2 separate regions of the Homo sapiens genome follow, and region 2 is linked to region 1. The links come from fine-mapping of genetic effects on gene expression. Tissue or cell type: whole blood. Region 1 holds a variant in brackets; the other region holds the start of a gene. All regions are shown on one strand. Distances are between the middles of the regions.

Region 1 (2,757 bases):
ACCCCCAGCCGGAGGGTGACTCATGCCCATCAGAGAACTTGAGGGGGGAAGCCCCAATAAAAACCAACCAACCAAGCAAACAAAAAGAACACCCCAAATCACACACACGCACACACACACGCACATTCAATATTCTGACACAAATAGCCCCAAGGGGCCACTACTGGAGGGAGCAGGGGCAAGGGAAGCTTCGGTTTTCAACCACAGGTATAACTCACAGGCCTCAATCCTCCTGGCTGGAATCAGCCAGAGTTGCTTTGTCTTGGTCATCCTGAGTCCACAATGAGTCACCTCTCAGAAGCCACCAGCCCAAAATAGGACTATTGCTTGCGGACAGGTGGCTCAGAATCCCCTCCCCTGCACCCCCAGCCCCTACCCCTGAGTTTGCTCCTAATCTTAGAAGTCCGCGGAAGGGGGCTTTGGGCACAGGCAGCATTTCCTCCTGTGCCACCGCCGCTACCTCGGCTGTCCCTGGCATCTCTGTAGAAGTTGTTCTTCTCGGAGGCTGCACCGGGTGCTTCAGATCTCATCTCCCCCATCCTGAGGCACAGCAAAAGCGTTTTCTGGAGGAAATACAAGGAAAAAAAGTATCACATGGTGTCTCCTCCATGGGGACATTTCTCTCTGGCCTCAGTGCCGGAAGAAGCCAGGTTTTCTCTGAGCATGTGGGTTTTGTCTTCTGAACATTGCGAACCATGTGACTTTAAGACTGGAAGAAAGAAAAAAAATGTCTGCTATCATTATAGCTCCATATAGTACTAGAGCTCTGGCCCATGCAATAAGACAAGAAAAATAAGCATAGAATAGGACTGGAATAGAAGAACCAAAATTACAGTTAATTGTGGATAACTTACATAGAAAATTTAACAGAATCAACAGGTTAATTAGTAGAATGGAGAGTGCAGACATAGACGTATAATAGTCAACCTATAAGACATCAGATCAATTTATAAAATGCAACAGTGTGCACTGACCTCAGCAATTACTAGGGTAATTATATGTCATGGCTTGGGACAGTCTCAGTT[A/G]ACACTTGTTCTGACATAATTTTTAATGTTGTTCCCCTTTTATCCTCAAAAGTATTCTGATTTGGCTGATAAATTATATGGTCACCATTGCCATAACAAACTAAATATTAAACACAGATACAGATACCATTCATATTGACAAAAACCATTATGTATTTTGGAATGGCACTAATATATGACCATGTCATACAAAGCTATAAAGAAGAGACCAAGGTGCTCCTGGAATAGGGAAAAGCCAGGAGACCAGTGGAACAAGATCTACAGTGTGGAAACAGATCTGCGGGGCACTTACTTATAGCTTTGATTGGCAGAGTCAAGTTGCAAACAAGACAATGAGGAAAAGAAATACAGACTCCATCTGTGGAAAGCAGCATGAACCCCACTGCCCTGTGTCTATTATAAGAGCAATTGCCCAGTCACAAATACTTACCTTCCCCGACTCCCTTGCAAGCAGGGGTGGTCACATGACCCAGTCTGGCTAACGCTGTGTAAGTGGGAGTCTATTGGGAAGGGGACATGAATCCAGGGGGAAATGAACTATCTTGCATGCATGAGAATGAAAGACGCTCACTAACACAGGTGGAGTAGAAAGCAGGCAGAAACTTGGTTCTGGTGGCAGCCCTGAACTACCCCCTTCATACCATTGCAGTTGAATTTCTTTTACTTGCGTAAATTGCATCTGGTGAGTGTTCTTAAATGATAAACCATCTTCAACTAAATGGAGAAGTCAAGGGAGTGGCTCCGACCAAGCCAGCAAAGCCCACCTCCCCAGAGTGAGTGATACGCCAAGAGGCAGAACCTACTCTCCACCCTTTGCATTAGTGGGAATGTGTACAGGGGCTAAGGGTGAGAGATTCTGTGGGGCCATCTCCTCTGCTTCATAGAACTAAGCCAGGTCCAGGTACTCTCCATCACCCACTTTGTTTTTCTCCATAGCACACACCTCCATCCAGCATACCACCTATTGTACTTACTTGAATAGTTTATTGTTTGTCTTCCCCAAATAGAAAGTTAGCTAAAAGAGGGTTAAGGTGATTGTGTGTTTTACACATCGCTGCATTGCCAGGGCCTAGAACAGTAACTGGCATACTGTAGGGGCTTAATAAATATTTGTCAAATGAATGAATAAACCAAGAATTTAAAGCCCAATGAACCATCTGTCAAGAATAAAGTCAACAGAAAAACATGTTGAACAGATTTTTGAATTAAAGTTCCCATGACCCCTTCTTAAAAAAATTATTAAGGATACGCTTAGGCAAATCAAGAATGATTCAGAAAGGTTTACTATAAAAGGATGGGCAGATGATTTTTTAAAAGTTCTGTGGATGGATGGCAGTGATGGCTGCTGTATTAGTCCATTTTCACGCTGCTAATAGACATACCCAAGGCTGGGCAACTTACAAAAGAGGTTTAATTGGACTTACAGTTCCACATGTCTGGGGAGGCCTCACAATCATGGCAAAAGGCAAGGAGGAGCAAGTCACATCTTATGTGGATGGTGGCAGGCAAAGAGAGCGAGCAAGCTTGTGCAGGAAAATTCCCATTTGTAAAGCCATCAGATTCGGTGAGATTCATTCACCATGAGAACAGCATGGGAAAGACCTGCCCCCATGATTCAATTACCTCCCACCAGGTTCCTCCCATGCCACATGGAAATTGTGGGAGTTACAATTCAAGATGAGATTTGGGTGGGGACACAGCCAAACCATATCAGTTGCCTTACAGTGAGAAG
Region 2 (2,500 bases), 70 kb before region 1:
TTCTCTAACAGTTACTAGGTCCCCACTGCCTTTAAATCAACCAGAACAAGTAACCAATCCCAGTTCCCATCCTGGAGGTCGTGTTGCCTGCAATTGTTTCTGGTAACAAATCCGAAGTTAATTGGGATTCAGTTGCCGATGATTAGAGTCTCTTCAGTTGTTTGGAGGAGAAAGGAATCTAACATAGGAAGCTGTGTGATTCTCAAGCTGTTGGAAGGCTGGAGGCAGCGCCTCCAGCAAGGACTCTTGGAAGAATACTGCAGAGCTGGCTCCTGAAGGAAGCTGCCGAGTCAGGCTGGCCCTAGAAGCATGCTTTCTGGGTTGAATGCTTTAGGTTCACCTCTGCAGATCCACTCCCCACCATTTTCTCTCCTCACATCTATGGGCCGCAGCAGGGGACTTCTTTTCTCTGGCTTCTGGCTGGATGTGGGCAGGGGAGGCCCTGGCAGGAGGGAGGAGAGTGAGGCTTGGTCATTGATTCCTCCAGCTGTGCCCTTCTGCTGGTTCACCATGAGCTGGCTGTGTCCCTCTACCAAAGGCCACAGCTCCTATCCCGAGGCCCCTCTTAGAGCTTCAGTGATTCTGTTCCTGGGCTCTGCCACCCACTCCCTCCTTCACCCTCTAGGTTTTGAAGAAGTAACAGCTCCCCATGTTGCTAGCCTGGGGTGTAGCACTGTCTCTTCTGGGTTCCTTTAACCCTGCCCCAGCTGTCCCTTTATTAAACAGTCTTCAGTTAGCACATGGGAATATACCGTCTCTTTGCTGCTGGGACTGTGACTGCTGCTACATCTATGTGGCTGTGATCCAGAGTCAGAAGCCACCACCAGAACCACTGTGTCCAGAGCTGGGCTGAGCCTGCTACACACGCCCCAGCAAAATAGGTCCTGCACGGTGGCTTCTCTCCCCACCTGTTACAAGCCCCAGTCTAGCACGGGCACTTCAGAATGGCAGGGACTGACTCATGTGCCTCAGTGTCTTCCTCTGTAATATGGGGGTGATGATTGTACCTACCTCACAAGGAAGTTTCCAGTAAAATGAAAGCCCTTAAAATTATGTTTGTTTCATCACCAATGACTCCATAAATATTAGCAACAATACCAGTACTAAGTTTTGTCATTTTTTATTAACTTCTTGTAAACGACCCTACTTTCCTGCTCTCACACACTCCTTACACCTGCATCCCACCTGATTTAGCCACTTTCTGCCTAACCTGTCAGAAAGGGTAGATAGCTTCCCAGTCACCTGTTGCTAGGGAAACTCACCATTTCAGCCCGGATGGTGAAGATTCCAGCTTGAGAGACCAGCTCGGGTCTGAAGTGTTTCTCTATCTACTGTGCTGAGATCTCTCCTTCTCGAACCCTGCTATGCCTTTGCATACGCTGTTTTCTCCACCTGCCACGTTCTCACCCCTTCTTCTTCCACTGCAAACTCCTATGCAGCCGTCAAGGCCCCATTCTCCTCTGGAAAGCCTTCCCGATCCCCTTGGCAACAACCACCACCAATATTTATTCACTGAGCCCACTTTGTGCCAAGCATTGTTCTAGACACGGGTATGTAACCGCGATTGAGAGAGACAGACCACGCACAGCCTGGATTTTATTTTAAGAGCTATTGGGTGCCGTTGGTGGGTTTGAGTGAGTGGGGTCAGGAAGTGACTCACTCCTCCGAGGGCTTGTGGGAGCCTCAGCTCAGGGGCGGGCAGGGGGCGTGGGGAAGTCTGCAGCCGAGAGTCCAGGTAGGAGTCTCCTGCGTGGTCCCGGGAGAGGAAGGGGCCTGGCCCGGGGCGGGGTGTGGAGGTGGGAGGACGGCGGTGCGGGATGGAGGGTGGAGGCCAGGCTGACAGGGTGCTGGTGGTGGGTTGCGGGGGTCGACCCCAGGCTCTGGCCTATGTAGCTGCCATTTTGGAGGTGAACAGCCTGCGGGGAAACTGGCATGGTTTGGGGAAGGCGGGGAGAGGGGGAGAAATGAAAGCATTGAGTTTAAGTGGCCTGCAGAACCCCGGGGGCCCAGGCGGCACGGCGGGCGCTGGGGCTCCGGGCAGAGCTTTCTGGAGGTTTGTGGCAGCTTCACTTTCACGGCATCCACCCCCCTCGGGCCCTGCCGCAGAGAGGAGGAAGCTCCTGCCGGCTGAGCGGGCCTGGAGGAAGTGAGCAGCGGGGCTCCTGCCTCCCGGCCTGGTCCCCGAAGACCCCAGAAGAACCCGGAACTTGCTTCCATTCGGAATCCAGGGACCACCCTTTGCACTCAGTAGGCCTTTGTTTTCCTGCGTGGAAAGCGGTTGGGTGAGTTCTGGCATCGGGGCCACCATACTTGAGTGTTGGGGGTCACGGAGGGAGGGGCCCAGACACCACCTGGGAAGGATCCCAGAGTGCAGTCCCAGCCCAGGCCACCCGGGGAAGGGAGTCGGTAAAGTGGGACCTTGAGTCCCCACGGCCCCTCCGGCTGCCCCTGCTCAGAGGCTGCTCGGCGTCCTCCCTCCCTGTTCTACTGAGGAGTTGCC

The links. PIP is the estimated chance that this variant, and not a neighbour inherited with it, causes the effect.
Region 2: it holds the start of PARVG, and the variant in region 1 is fine-mapped to the expression of PARVG in whole blood (TOPMed, PIP above 0.99).

The regions. Positions count from the first base shown.
Region 1 is chr22:44,249,123-44,251,879 of GRCh38, forward strand. It overlaps SHISAL1 (shisa like 1), which reads right to left. Exons shown (of 5, transcript NM_001099294.2): 5 at 1-563. The coding sequence ends at 563. Among named protein-coding and RNA genes, the nearest start is that of SHISAL1, 62 kb to the right of the region's middle. The variant A/G (reference allele first, on the strand shown) is at 1,026.
Region 2 is chr22:44,179,636-44,182,135 of GRCh38, forward strand. PARVG (parvin gamma) reads left to right here and starts at 1,290. Exons shown (of 14, transcript NM_022141.7): 1 at 1,290-1,550; 2 at 2,107-2,282. RefSeq lists silencers at 551-600, 1,771-1,900 and enhancers at 1,277-2,007, 2,008-2,500.